Linked DNA regions of Homo sapiens. The protein of the gene in region 2 purifies or fractionates together with the protein of the main gene of each other region. This does not show direct contact. Each region holds a gene or a part of one and is shown on either strand. Other genes may lie near its edges.

Region 1 (3,500 bases), on a different chromosome or scaffold from region 2:
TAAATCTGAATTTTCCAGAAGGCTACCTACCTGAAGAAAAACAAAAAATAATTGCTTCATATTAAAATAATTTTTTCTTCTTATTGTGAAACAACAATCATAGCTATAATAAGATAATGATGTTTCATTCTTTTCTCTCAGGACTTTAATTTTTGGAAGTGAATAAAACTTGTTTTAGAAGACGAGATGACTACAGCTGTAGAGAGAAAGTATATTAATATTAGGAAAAGGCTGGATCAGCTGGGATACCGCCAGACTCTGACAGTGGAGTGTTTACCTTTGGTAGAAAAACTTTTCAGGTAAAGACAAAAATACAGTTTTCAACCTTTATGATCCCTAACCACTTACCTCATTTCTGATTGAACTTCATGCTTTGGTAAAGAAAAGGGTAGCTTTCCGGAAAGGCTTTCAATCATGAAGCTTATCTGTTTTTTCCCTGTCCTCAATCCAGGCCTTCCACACGGCAGAACTCTAAAGGCCACCACTCACGCTGTACTGTTCAAAGTCAACATTTCTGGGGGTTTTCTCTGTGAATGGAATTACAGTTTTTTGGGTTTCTGATATAATTGAGAGACACTTTTCCCTTAAGTTCTTTTTTTTTCCCCCCCTTAAGTTCTATGTCTGCTTCACTGGTCTTCAAATACAGTCATGGATAGTTTCATGACAGGGATACGTTCTGAGAAACATGTCATCATTAGGTGATTTTTTCGTTGTACCAACATCATAGGGTGTGCTTACACAAACCTAGATGGTGTCGCCTACCACAAACCTAGGCTATATGGTCTGTATCCTATGGCTCCTAGGCTACAAACCTGTATAGCATGTTACTATACTGAATACTGTAGGTAATTGTTAACACAGTGGTGCCTATTTGTATATCTGAACATATCTAAACATAGAAAAGGTATTGTGTTGTGCTACAGTGTTACAATGGCCAGATCTCATGAGGCAATAGGAATTTTTCAGCTGCCCCCATTATAAATCTTACAGGACTACTCTCCTTCCTATATGTGGTCTGTCGTTGACCAAAATGTCATCATGTGGTGCATGACTGTATTTTAAGCCTCTTTAGAAATATGTTTTTAGTTATTAGAAAGTTAATGAAATATTTCCTGGTATTTAAATTTTCTGTTCTTTTAGCGACTTAGTTCATACAACTGAGAGCCTTCGGCAATCAAAATTATCTGCTGTGAAAGCTGAAAAAGAAAGTGCCAATTTTGATTTTGTTTTGGAACCCTATAAACTTGAAAATGCAAGATTGAGTAGAGAAAATAATGAATTATACCTAGAGTTAATGAAACTGAGAGAACATTCAGACCAACACGTTAAAGGTAAGTGAAAATTTGATAATTTTTAAAATGCAATGTCTTTGTCCTTTTTATTTTAGAAGGAAAAGCTAACGTCTAATTTTAAAACTATTGATTAGAAAATATAGTAGTCCTACAGCTGGATGGTGTGTGCCTATAGTCCCAGCTACTCGGGAGTTTAAGGTGGGAGGATTGCTTGAGCCCAGGAGTTTGAGACCAGCCTAGGCAACATAGTGAGAACTTGTTTCAAAAAAAAAGAAAAGAAAAGAAAATATGGTACTCCTTCTGCTAATAGCCCCTGAAATACTATAGGGTATGTTGAAGAGTTCCTGAGAAGGAAAATAAATGTGCATTATATAGCTATGATAATCACTATATGTGGATTAAATTTTTAGAATTAAAAATTTAATTAAAATTTTAGAATTAAAATTGCCATAGGGAATATTAAATGCTGGATTTGAAGAAATGTTCTTGAAACAACTTTTGTTTTTCCCTTACTGAAAATAAAAGTAGTAAATAAGGTGAAAACCATGTATCATGCTGACTGTTTTATAGTCAGTCTTTGAGCTGTCAAGTAGAATAGGATGATTTCAAAGGTACTAGGGAAAAGATAATTATATGGTTATCTTTGTATGAATTATTCTTATATTCAGTAGAAAACTTTATCTAATCCATGGTATGAATTCATAATCCTTTAGCTTCAGACCCAATTTACTGGATCAAAAGCTATGATGTACGTTAGGCTAATACAGTAGCTGAAAAATGAAGATTCTCTTTTGTGCTTAGTGAGTTATTTGCAGTTTTGTTAATAATAGTAGAAGAAGGAATAAGTGTCAACTAAAGCATGCATAAGAAGCAGGTGGAGACTTTTAAATTGATATGACTTTTTGTATTTTGTGAAATGGAAAAACTTCATTGGATTTCTTGATCTTTAAAACGGTCTTTGAATCTTTTTCATTTTAAGAGTTGAAAACTTCATTGAAGAAATGTGCACGTGAAACAGCTGATCTGAAATTTCTGAATAACCAATATGCTCATAAACTCAAACTGTTGGAGAAAGAGAGCAAAGCTAAGAATGAAAGAATTCAACAACTTCAAGAAAAGAATTTGCATGCTGTAGTACAAACTCCAGGTAAATCGATTCCTTCTCGAGACAAATTATACACATTTAATCTTTTAACGATATTAACACCATTGACTAAAATAGGACTTTGGATTGGATTTTCATGCTTAGACTTTAGTGTTTGAAAATATATATTGAATAGACCGTAAACTTCTTGATTTATTTCTAATGATCCGGGTAGTAATTTATACGTGTGCTTAGAAATGTATGTAGTATTAGTTACTTAGATACTAGTCTAACTTTAATGCCCAGAGCTTTCTCTAATCAATATTTTAAATTCTTTTTTCTATTATTATTATCATTATTATTTTAGTTGTAAAAGTAATCCATACTCATTAAAGAATTTGGAAATTATGTACTTTCTTAGTTTATTTTACTATTTTTAGCATTATGCTTAGTAGTTATAGAGCAAGAAAAGGAAATGATGGGTCCAGGTGCAGTGGCTCACACCTGTAATCCCACCACTTTGGGAGGCTGAAGTGGGCAGATCATTTGAGGCCGCTTCAAGACCTGTGTGGGAACGTGATGAAACCCCACCTCTACCAAAAATACAAAAATTAGCTGGGCATGGTGGCGCAAGCCTATAGTTCCAGCTACTTGGGAGGCTGAGGTGGGAGGATTGCTTGAGCCTGGGAGGCGGAGGTTGCAGTGAGCTGAGATTGCACCACTGCACTCCAGCTTGGGTGATAGAGTGAGACCCTGTCTCAAAAAAAAAAAAAGAAATGATGGGCCACATCCAGAGTTGGTGATTGTTCAGCAGGTATGGGTTGGTGGTAGAATCTACAATATTAGTGACAAAATCATTAAGATAGCTGAACCATGGGATCAAGATTATGAAATTAAGTGAGTAACAGGGGGCTGCTGGATTATGAGGCTAGGTCAAGACAGATTAAAGAGCATGATGAGTACCAAAAGTAATTTGTTTGCTATGAAGATTGCAGTCAGAGTGGAATTTTGGAGTTGAAGAACTAGAAGCCAGCAGAGTTCTGAGTGATGACAAAGGCCAAAGTGTATCATCTTATTGTGTGCCTGAAGTTGAGGGGAGAGGAGACTCCTGAGAGTGGACAGAT
Region 2 (3,955 bases):
TGTTCATACATTGCATGTTTCATTAGCATCTTAAATTTCCACCCAGGGGCGTGTTTTTTACCAAGATAATGAGCAAAGGGTCAGTTTGAGGACAGGTGAAATCAAAATGCGCATGCTCCCTACAGGGGAAAGTCCCTACTGGAGAGCGCTCAGCTTGAATGAGCTCAATTACAATGCGAATGCTGGGGCTTACTGTGTTGACTGCGGTCACCACGGTTGCCGCGTCTCCAGGACACGGTCACTTCCTTGACTATCCCCGCCTCGCTTCCACCTGTAGCTTCCTTTTTTTTTTTTTTGAGACAGTCTCACTCTGTGGCCAGCCTGGAGTACAGTGGTGCGATGTCGGCTCACTGCAACCTCCGCCTCCTGGGTTCAAGCGATTCTCCTGTCTCAGCCTCCAGAGTAGCTGGGATTACAGGCGTCTGCCACCACGCCCGGGTAATTTTTTTGTATTTTTAGTCGAGACGGGGTTTCGCCATGTTGGCCAGGCTGGTCTCGAACTCCTGACCTCAGGTGATCCGCCCGCCTCGGCCTCCTAAAGTGCTGGGATTACAGGCGTGAGCCTCCGCGCCCGGCCGGTAAGCTTCCTCTTCTCTGCTCTCATCACCTGTACACGGGTTTTTTCCTCATGTCAACTCTGTGATGGACTGGAATGTTTTCTTCAGATGTGGGTAATTTAAAGGGGGCATTTTTACAAGAAACAAAAAAAACTCGGTTTGTTCGGAGGCAAGTTTTAAATCAGGGTTCATTTTTTAATATTGATGAATCCTTCAATAATTGTATGTTTACTGCTGCCCTTCGCGAGCCAGCCTGAGAAGCGCGGGCTCGACATCCCCGCGCGCCCCCGCCGCCCGCCCCCAAGGCCGGCGACGCTGGAGCACATGTCCTGAGGCCCAGGACCGTGGTCGGCCGCTTTCGCACATTCGTGGCCAGCAGAGGGCGCAGCCGGCCAGCCCCCGCAGCGAAAGATCCCCGAGTGCCGCGTCAGCGATCGCGCTCCTTGCCCTCGCCGCCTGCCAGCCGCCCTGAGTCAGCAAACCACAGAGAGGCGAGGACCTCCCATTTTCCTAGACAGAACAAGTGGGCGTTGGGGGTACGGGTGAGTGGCAAGAACAACCGACCCGGAAGCGAAACGAGGGGGAACTTCCGTTCTTTGTTCTGTCCCCGGTGTGTGGGTCTGTGACAGGGTCCAACAGGGCCTGGTCCGTGTCCGGTCCCCCAAATCTGTCGTCCCTGCCCCCAGGGTGAGTCCACGCGTCCCCGGGTCTCGCGGTGAGACGGAGGCTGTGGTCGCCGGGGAAGGGGGTGGTGTCTGTGCCACTGCGGCCCGCAGGGTCCCCCGGCCGGCCCGGAGCAGGGTTCGGGGAGGCGCCCCTCCGTCCCCTGCAGCCCGTCCTCTACTCCGCTTCCCCAGGGATCCCCCTAGCCTAGCGGGATCCTGCGTAGGGGTTAGTAATGGGGCTCCGGTTCTGGTTTTGTGACTTTAACGGCGACCCAGCTGGAGCGTTTAAAAGTTTCAGCAGAGCGGTAGGGGCGCCTCTCTCTTGAAAGCAGCTAATGACAGCGACCCTAACTTGGTATTTCTCCCAGACGTTTTTATTTGATGTTAACACAGTTATTCGCGCCCGTGGCAGGAGAGGAAGTTTATTTTTACGCAGCTGGGTCCAAGGATCAGAGAAATTCTGCTAAGCGTACGCAGTTAGCACGAGGGCTGGGAGTGGGTGCAGACGCCGATTCCAGGGGTAATCCTGCTGGAGCCCAGTGCATCGCGTGATACACCTGGCTCAGGCTCCGTTTTCAGTTGTATTAGATTCCTGGTTTGATCCTCTCTCCGGAAGTGGGATTGAATCCACATCGGTGTTTACACTCTGAAGGGCTTTTGTAAACTCCAGGAGAAGATAGCAGAGTGATGAACCTGAAACCGATGGGCTAATTAGAGGAACGAGCGTATTATTTTCTCCAGAAAAGACATCTGTGGAGAGTGGGCATCATTTGATTATACGTGTTTGATGGACAGTCGGGTGGAAGGAGAAGATTCTGTTATTGAAGCTCTTTTTTTAAAAAAATTAATTTTTATTTATTTTTGAGACTGTCTCTGGAGTGCAGTGGCGCGATCTCGGCTCACTGCAACCTCCGCCTCCCGGTTCAAGCGCTTCTCCTGCTTCAGCCTCCCGAGTGGTTGGGACTACAGGCGCCCGCCACCACCTCCGGCGAATTTTTTGTATTTTTAGTAGAGACGGGGTTCCGCCCTTTTGGCCAGGCTGGTCTGCAACTCCTGGCCTCAAGTGATCCACCTGCCTTGGCCTCCCAAAGTGTTGGGATTACAGGCGTTAGCCACCGCGCCCGGCCTTTTTTTTTTTTTTCCTTTTAAAATGTTTGTGTGTGTATTAAGGTCTTGCTCTGTTGCCCCCGGCTGGAGTGCCGTGGTGCCATCATGGCTCACCATAGCCTGGAACTCCTGGGCTCAAGTAATCCTCCCACCTCAGCCTCCTAAAGTGCTGGGGTTACAGGCGTGAGCCACTGCAGGTCGCCAGTCATTGAATTTCTGTGATGCACTAGGTCTCTGTGCGGTGAAGGTCCAAGGAGATAGATTTTCAGCGAATCACCTGAAGACTTCTAATGGCTCAGCTGTGCAATGTGGATCCCCTGCTGAAGTAGTTCGGAGCACAGTGTCTAGCAAGTTAGCTGACAGAACGTTAGAACTTTCTTACCCTGGGTGGAGGTGGACCTGAGAACCTACCATTCCCTTTCATCTCTCCACGGGTGCAACGCAAATACTAGTTGTGGTGGTGGTCTTAATTGGTATTTATTAGCATATAATAAGTATTCTCTTTTTTTTCCTTTTCTTTAAATGTCTTGATTAGAAATGAAGTTTAGGCTGGACTCGGTGGCTCATGCCTGTAATCCCAGCACTTTGGGAGGCTGAGGTGGGAGAATCACTTGAGGCCAGGAGATTGAGACCAGCCTGAGCAACACAGTGAGGCTGCATTTCTACAAAAAGAATTTTAAAAAACTCAGCCAGATGTGGCAGTGCACACCTTTAGTCCCAGCTCCTTGGGAGGCTGAGCTGGGAGGATCACTTGAACTTAGGAGTTTGAGTCTGGAGTGAGCTCAAACTCACTGCACTCCAGCCTGAGCAGCAGAGTCAGACCCTGTCTCATGGAAAAAAAAAGACGTTTGCATGAATATTTTAAATTCCTTTTTTTCCCCTTAATCACACAGCATTGGCATCAACAAAAGTCAGAATTCCCGGGAACTTGAACAGAGGCTGCTAAATTCCCAGTAATTGCTCCTTTGGCCTTCTAGGGACTGACTTCAAAGAAGGAAGGAAAGAATCAGGCAGGTAAAGCTTTCCGTGTCTTGTTCTTACTGCCAGGCCATCTATCTCGGTCCCCACGGGCAGCACCAGGGAGTGAGGCTGGCAACAGAGCAGGGGAAGGGCCCTGTCTGGACCTGAAGCCATGGGGGCACAATGGAGAGTTTTCTTTCTGTGAGAAACGCTGTTTACTGATCTGGACACTGGGTGCTTGTTCTCAACAATATGCCTTTGAGTTCCAGCTTCACTTAACCCAGCTGTGAGAGGGAGCTGTTGCCTTTTTCTCTGGAGTCAGACCTTTGACCTGCCTTTCTAGGAGTTTGTACTGAAAGCTGACTTGTTGAGGGCGTCAGCTCATAAATAGCTCCGGAGATTGTAAAGGTGGTTGATAAGAGGATATGATGGTTGGCTCTGAGACACCATTGAAGGGACCCTGCTAGGAGGGCGATGGTGGCAAGAAGGTGTGTCACCTTGATTGCCAGTGGCCTGGCTTGTGCCTGAGTCAGTGCTTTCCACTGTGTAAGGGCTCTGGTATTGGACATTCTATATCCCCTGCTACCCGAAGACCAGAGTTGCCCAAACTTGCGACTGACTTTCAAACAGGACCCCTCTTCCTTTGTTCTTTTTTTTTCTTTTATT
Region 3 (3,500 bases), on a different chromosome or scaffold from region 2:
TAAAGTGTAAAACTGCTGCACTGTGAGCCTCTTTAAAACCAGAACGTTCTGTAAATCCCAACTCATACATTCTTTCAGTTTCACCTCTCACTTAAAATGACACCCATGTCATATCTGAGGAAACCGAGGCATAGAAGAATAAAGAAGTATTAAAGTTTATTCACTGGGTTGTATAGCTGTGATCTCTTGATATAATGTAAGAAAGTTTTCTGTAGAAGGACTTAGATGACTGACGAAACCAGATGCAGGTAAGGTGACTTGGAAACTCAGCTTTCTCCTCTGTAAAATGGGGATAATAATACCCAACTTGACCTTTCCACATGTTTTTTATGATTAAATGAAGTAATTTATGGGAACTAGCACTGTAAATTGTAAAGCACTGTGCAGCTATCTGGGGTGTAATCATCATTAAGTGCCTTAGTCTCAGCTTTTTACTCCTTCCAAATTCTCTCTCCAGTAAGTGCAGGCTGTTCAGGATTTGTGTGTGAGTGTGTGTGTGCGCACGTGTGTGTGTGCATGTGTGTGTGTGTTTTCACTCAGCCAGTCATTCATTTAATTATTGTTTAACATAGTTATTGTTAAACATAAACATACTAGATTGGCCAGACCATAATTTTGTCAGCACAATGATCGATTATCCTTAATTTTTTTAACTTACCTCGTATAAATCCTTACTTGAGTTAGACCCATGGAAGAGTCACTATTAACATTCCTGGCATTTCTAACTACAGAAAAAAATATTTTTAGTCAGTTTCTTTAGCTGTTTGTTTAACTGTTGGTTCAGGTTTTCAACTCTGTGTTGAGAATAATATGTAGCTTTCTAGATGCAGTCTTATCAATGACCTAGAGAGGGACTATTGTCTCTCTTGTATGATAGGAGCCTGGAAATACAGCTCGAGATCCTGCTTTGTCTATAGTTCCTGACATGTCACCCTGTTGATGTGCACTTAGAATGCTGTAACTCATCTAAGCAGCACCTGAGCAGTATCTGACTCCTTGTTGTCTCTTTAGGTGAGATTAATTTCTCTTATACTTATTACCTGCTAGGAAGATACTTTGGAGCCAGCTTGCTTTAAGGTTTGCCTGTTAGTTTTTTTTGGTTTTGATTGGCTAAATATCCCTCGATCCCTCAATTCATTAAAACTCCACGTTCTAATCACTAGCAATCATATGTAGCTGGACATTTCCAGGACTGTTTTTTTTTCTCTCTCTAGTTCTCTTGCATCTGACTCTTGATTTTCCTAGGTCGTGAGATGTAGTTTTGTGTCTGGCCTACCCAGACGGAAAGAGGAGAGTCTGGCTGCTGTTTGGACATTGGCATGTGTGCTGCTGACAGCTCTTCTCTTTGTGCTCATAAAAGTGAATTTCAAAAATAAATCAACCCCTCTGCCACTCTGCCCCCTCCCACACTCCCTCCTACTCTTTTCTAGCAAAAACAGAGCCCCACATATATATACACAAGATCACAGCCCTTTTGTTTTTGCCAAATATATTTTAGTGCTGTACATGTCCTTAAGAACTGGAAATATGACTCATCCACTAACCAAAGCTAATGCCAACATTCCCACCAAATCTCATATTTCTAGCAATGATGGTTTGTTACAGGTTTTTCTGGCCTTTAAGGTAATATTTAATTCATGTGATAAGATTCCATATAGAAAAAGTGTGTTGGCTACTAATATTTTTAAAGTGCAGTATACCAGGTCTACTCAAACTGGTATTAAAGACAGTGAACATCATGCTAAATAGGGATCTGTGCTGCTCCCATTTCCCCTACTTGCTTTTCATGGAGTGCAGGAAGAGAGATGCTGGAAGATTGAGAGCAGGAAGCATCAAGAAAGTTTACAGATTGTTCTTAAAGACAAAACAAAGAACACAGGGATTCTGTGTGTGTGCACGTGTATGTGTGTGTGTGAGTGTGTGTATGTGTTTTTGATCTTTTACTTAATTTTTAGAAGAGGAAAAAAGTCCTATGGTATTTTTGACTTGTTTATTGAAATCAGCCTTTGCCTTTGCGCAAACACATTTTCTAGTTCTGTCAATGTAAAAATTTCCCTCTGTGTATTCTTCTCAGTCTTTACACTTTGATCATATGTATCTGGTCTGTGTTCCTTCTTCAAATGGTGTTTCTTTTTGCCTAAAAAGGTTGTAATTGCTTTTGAACATGACTTGTTTTTTTAATCAAAACTCATGCTGTTTGTCATAGTACTGAAAAAAAAAAGTACAAGACATCAATTCATGATAGGTCTTAAAACAGTATTTGATAACAAAGTAAGTGAATAATACATTAATCAGGCTATTTTTTATTTCAATTGAAGCAAAAAGCAAACTTGCATATCCATGAACTAATCTTTTAATGTCACAGAACATTTATTTGTTGCTGTTTCTGAAGTCTTTAAGTTCCCTTTTATAAATGGGGATAGACAATTTCAGAACCACATTGCTTGATATTTTGAGATAAGTGAGATAAGTTACATACAACTATGCCTTGGAAAACTGAAAAAATGTTATGATGTTTGATATCAGTGTGAACTCTGAATAGTTTGTAAACTTCACACTCCACATTAGTGCAAATGTGTTTTGTGAAAATACTCCTAAAGAAACGTAGTTTCACATAAAAGGTTTTTAAAGTTTCATGAAGATTCTGTTGTGGGAAGTATGTTTATTTTCCTTTTGTATTCTTGTGGGAATTCTTTTGATCTGTATTTAATATTTTAATAATGAAAACTAAGTGTATGTAATTTTAAAACTTAGTTTCGTGAGGTTTTTTTTAGATTGTTGAGGTTCTGGGAAAACACTGGGCCTGGGATCTAAGGATCACATTGATCCTCTCGTGGAACATTGCCATTTCCCCACTTAACTCTGGTTGAAATTTTTGGCATTCTCCTTCGTGTGTTGATAATCCATAAAAATTACAAGTGGCTTATTTTGTCACTTACAGTTGTTTTAGGATCAAATTAAGTTGTCCTAAATGGAATAATCCGTGTTTCCACTTGATATGATTATTGAGCTCTGATAATGAAAATGATGAACAGGGCAGTGCTGGCTGAATCCTCCAACAGGTGTCATTCTAGGAATTGTTTTAATAAGGGGAATTCAGAAACAAGGCAAAATAAAATAGTGCGTAGTGGAGTTATTGTTTGTATTTATTTTGTTGGGAAATGTGAAAGATGTAAGTATGTAGTCCTCTGTGTGAATACACACACACACACACACACACACACACACATCTTAACAATGCTAGGACTTAGTTGTAGAAACATTTAGGTTAGAAAGAAGGTAAGGGCATCTAGAGATGGTATCAAAACTCCATACTTAACATTTTTGGAAAGAGTAGTGAAAATAGATCACTACTTTATTTCATAGATGTAGAAACAAGTGGAAAATAAGCTGTATATAATCTATACTGTATACTATACTATACTGTTATACTTTTAAGGATAAAATAATAAATCTTTCTCCAGATTGGTATCTATTAATATAAACCCTTCCCAGTGCAG
Region 4 (4,210 bases), on a different chromosome or scaffold from region 2:
CCTCGGTCTCCTAAAGTGGTGGGATTACAGGCATGAGCCACTATGCCTAGCCTGGTTTGAGTAATATCTTGATGGTTGATGAAATATTTGATAATTGGATGAGAAGAGAACTGTGTTGTCTCCAGTGATGCTGCAAATGGGTGAGGAGAAATGCTGCCATTTGTGAGGTTTGTGGGCGGCAAGGTTGAAGAAGAGAATAATGAAAAAGCTAGCGTCATCCTCAAGGCCTGTTGATAGTCTTGATTATTGTTTTCTGTGTTTTTACCTCATGGTGCTCAATATGTATTTGTTCAGTGAGCAAATAAATGTAAGGTCAGATTCTGCAAACAAAAGTCAAAGAAATCTTACTTCCTGGAAAAGTTAGCCCAATTAAGTGCAGCTTTCCAGTCACCCCTCCTGGCTCCATTTTATTTCAGCTGTAAGGGATCCGAGAGACTTTAGCCCAAGGTGTTTCTTCAAAGCAATAAGTGGAAATGTTTCCCCACATTAAGACTGCACAGACGAACTGTCATGACCAGGCTCTTGGTCCCCTGTGGACGCATCCCACTTGGTGTCCTGGTTACCTGGGCTATCTTGGGCTGACCTCATCATTCTAGTAGTGATGGCCTGGCAGAGACATTAAAAGGCTTCTTCATGGAGTCTGGCTGGTTTCACATCCTGGCTTTGCTGGGTTAGATTGGAGAAGTGACTTAACTTCTTAGTGACTCCATTTGCTCATTTGTAAAATGGGTATAGTAATAGCTCCCGTCTCATAGGATCATTGTGAAGATTAAACAGAACAATCCAGGTAACGCATGCAGGAGGGTATCTTGCACACAATATGCAGTAAATGTTAGCCATTATGATGGAGATTATAGTTGTCTTTGATTAATGCAAATTAACAAATTTACTTACTAAATTTAATTTGACATTCTTTGAAAATATGCTCTCTCTCTCTCTCTCTCTCTCTGTGTGTGTGTGTGTGTGTGTGTGTGTATTGAAAGACAGAGAGAGACTGGTGTTTGGTGGTGAAAGTTTTGGGCCCACGTAGGCCAGCATCCTTTTCAGTTGAAGTTGTGCTTGTGGGAGGTGAAATGACTTGCCCAAGGCAATACCACTAGGAATAGCCCAGGTAAGTTTAAATACTATGTTTTTTGACTCTCAACCCAGTGACTTTTCCACTATATCTCATTTCCAGGCATTGCTGGTTCGTTTTTTTCGAAAATCATTCCAAATTATATTCCAATTCGACTTTCTTCAAGTTCATCCCAGAAAAGCAAAGGCCGGGCACTTGAACAAGAACAGCTGTCAGCCTGGGGCGAGGGGGCAGTGTTGGTGGGGGCTGGAGCGGGGCCGGACTCTAATTGGTCCACGGCCTCGGCCCGACTATCAAATCAGCAGAGCCTGCGTCATCACGTCGTTGCCTGGGCTGCCGTCCGCGGAAATTTGAAATGGCTGACGGGTCGCTGACGGGCGGCGGTCTGGAGGCAGCGGCCATGGCGCCGGAGCGCATGGGCTGGGCGGTGGAGCAGGAGCTGGCGTCTCTGGAGAAAGGTGAGCTCTCCATGCCGGGGCCGAGGAGCCGCCTCTGAGCGGAGGCCTGGGGCGTCGGGACCCTAGGAGGGCGCCTGGGTCGCGGGCCTTCCGGACCCGTCTGTCCAGGGTGGCGGGAACGGCGGTGCGCGGCCGGGACCCAGTGACGGGACCTCAAAGTCGGGCGGTACCCAGGGGTGGGGGACTCCCTCTCTTCCCTATCCGCATCTCCCACTCTCCCTGCACTCTCTGGCCTCCGCCCGCCCCGAGGTTGGAGGGAGCTGGATTGGGCCAGGAATTCCCTATCTGGATGGGTTTTGCGGGAACTGTGCATTTACTGTTGCTCAAGGGGCCATTTTTTCATCTGCATCTCAAAGGAGATCACGAACCACACTTCCCTTTTCCGAAGAAGAGAAAAGCTTGAACCCTTGGCTTAGATGGCTGTCCTGTGCACGGAGGGTAGTGACGTGTCCAAAGTGAGGAGCGCCAACTTGGGCCGGAGTCCAGAAATAGAACCGGGGTCTTCTAGTTCTCTGCCCTTTCTTCCTCCTCATAGAGTTTCATTACTATTTTTTTTTTCTGATATTTTAAGCTGGTTCATGTTTTTACGTTAACACTTTCGGTTGTATTGTGTAGCAGAGAGTCCCAACAAAGTGAGAAAACATAAGTGTGACAATTCCACTATTAACCCACCTATCCAACTGGCAAAAGTCACTTGGCTTCAGTTTTCCCATCTGGAAGACTATGCCAATGGTTGTACTTGTGGTGAAGTTGAAGTGAAATAAAGTTTTTAAAGTGGCTGCAAAAATAAATACTGCATGGCATCGCTTATATTGGGAATCTAAAAAAGAGGAAGTTTCAGAAAGAGAGTAGAGTGGTAGTTGCCAGTGGGTTGGGGGAATGGGGAGATGCTGGGCAAAGGGTCCAAAGTTTCAGTTATGCAGTGTGAATAGTTCTGGGGATCTGATGTACATACAGCATGGTGACTATAGTTAATAATACTGTATTATTATTACAGTATTAATAGGCAATGACGTGATGGTGCAATGCGACACAAATTTTGTACTTGAAATTTGCTAACAGAGTAGATCATAAGTGTTCACACCACACACACACAAAAGGTAACTATGCGAGGTGATGGAAATATTAATTCACTTTACTGTGGTAATCATTTCATAATGTATAGGTATATCAAAACATCATGTTACACACTTTATTTTTTATTTTATTTTATTTTTTTTGAGGCAGAGTCTCACTCTGTTGCCCAGGCTGGAGTGCAGTGGCACACAATGTCAGCTCACTGCAACCTCTGCCTCCCGGGTTCAAATGATTCTCCTGCCTCAGCCTCCCAAGTAGCTGGGATTATAGGCGCCCGCCACCACACCCAGCTAATTTTTGTATTTTTAGTAGAGACGGGGTTTCACCCTGTTGGCCAGGCTGGTGTCGAGCTCCTAACCTCAGGTGATCCGCCCATCTCGGCCTCCCAAAGTGCTGAGATTACAGGTGTGAGCCACCGTGCCTGGCCATCAGGTTATACACTTTAAATGTATATAACTTCTATATGTTAATTATACCTCCATAAAGCTATAAAGAATGGTGCTGGAAAAAAAAAGAATGGTGCTGAAGTACTACTATTTCTTTAACAAACATATACATTATGTAATAGGCACTGTTGTAAATTATTAACAATTAATCTTCTTAATTGAAGTGGATGTACTATTATCTTCCCTTTATAGGTGAGGAAGCTGAGGCATTGTCACATAACCAGTAAGGTACTGATGCCTTCTAAGGTTCATGTGCATCAGTGTTTGTGAGCAGTAGACCCTTGAGTACACTTTGGTCATCTGTGGGTCAAGTACTTCTGGTGGCCTGAACAGGGACAAAGAAATGGAAGGAAGGGGGAAAGGGAAGGAGAAAATCAAGGGGGAGGGAGAAAAAAGGTATCTGCTAACAGCTCAGATACCTTCCCTGAAACCACTTCTGGAGACTACTCTACATTCTAAATGCTACCCTTTTTAGCATTGCTTATTTAGTAGTTGTTTCATTTATTAAAAACATTACATAGAATTAGATATGCCACTGGCTGAATCATACCTTATGAAACATTATATACAGCCCAAACCTAATGTGATTTGCATTTTCTGATCTTTTCCTTAGACACAGTCATTGAAATTAGTGAGGAGGAATCTAATAACCTTACTGAAGTAAACCTTATGGATTATTAAGACTCTCGTCCCTGTTTATTGAGGGGCGATTGACAGACTGATATTGTAGGAAATAAAGGGAGGGCTTAACCCATCTGAGAGGAAGTCAGCTCCCTTTCTTAAAGGAGCTTTATGGAATTGCTTTGGAAAATAAATAACTAAGATACTTGATTATTATCACTGGCTAACTGTAGTATAAATCACAGGCTGTATGCTTTGTAGGAGATCTTGAGTGATTTCCACTGAATTAAAAATCAACTGTCTTCCAGCTGGATGTGGTGGTGCATGTCTGTAGTCCTAGTTACTCAGGAGGCTGAGACAGGAGGGTAGCTTGAGTCCAGGAGTTTGAGGTTGCGGTGAGCTATGATCGCACCACTGCACTCCAGCCTAGGTGACAGAGTGAGACCGTTTCTAAAACAAAAACAAAAACAGCCTTCTACTTCTCCCCAAAACCTCACAGAACAACAACAAAAATCTAACTGTGAAAGATCTTA

Evidence for each region.
Region 1: the proteins of ZNF3 (region 2) and CEP135 purify together in Homo sapiens (co-immunoprecipitation; one large-scale study listed by IntAct). This does not show direct contact.
Region 3: the proteins of ZNF3 (region 2) and PTPRK purify together in Homo sapiens (affinity purification with mass spectrometry; 2 studies listed by BioGRID and IntAct, with this or other methods). This does not show direct contact.
Region 4: the proteins of ZNF3 (region 2) and SHCBP1 purify together in Homo sapiens (affinity purification with mass spectrometry; 2 studies listed by BioGRID and IntAct, with this or other methods). This does not show direct contact.

What each region holds. Positions count from the first base shown.
Region 1 is NC_000004.12:55,951,945-55,955,444, forward strand, and holds part of CEP135 (centrosomal protein of 135 kDa), read left to right. Parts: intron 1-141; 5' UTR 142-186; coding exon 187-299; intron 300-446; exon of another isoform or gene 447-527; intron 528-1,140; coding exon 1,141-1,331; intron 1,332-2,271; coding exon 2,272-2,439; intron 2,440-3,500. UniProt on the Homo sapiens protein: Centrosomal microtubule-binding protein involved in centriole biogenesis. Acts as a scaffolding protein during early centriole biogenesis.
Region 2 is NC_000007.14:100,078,924-100,082,878, reverse strand, and holds the start of ZNF3 (zinc finger protein 3), read left to right. Parts: upstream 1-1,155; 5' UTR 1,156-1,244; intron 1,245-3,222; 5' UTR 3,223-3,343; intron 3,344-3,955. UniProt on the Homo sapiens protein: Involved in cell differentiation and/or proliferation.
Region 3 is NC_000006.12:128,514,100-128,517,599, reverse strand, and holds part of PTPRK (receptor-type tyrosine-protein phosphatase kappa isoform b precursor), read left to right. Parts: intron 1-3,500. UniProt on the Homo sapiens protein: Regulation of processes involving cell contact and adhesion such as growth control, tumor invasion, and metastasis. Negative regulator of EGFR signaling pathway. Forms complexes with beta-catenin and gamma-catenin/plakoglobin.
Region 4 is NC_000016.10:46,618,580-46,622,789, reverse strand, and holds the start of SHCBP1 (SHC SH2 domain-binding protein 1), read left to right. Parts: upstream 1-1,410; 5' UTR 1,411-1,430; coding exon 1,431-1,533; intron 1,534-4,210. UniProt on the Homo sapiens protein: May play a role in signaling pathways governing cellular proliferation, cell growth and differentiation. May be a component of a novel signaling pathway downstream of Shc. Acts as a positive regulator of FGF signaling in neural progenitor cells.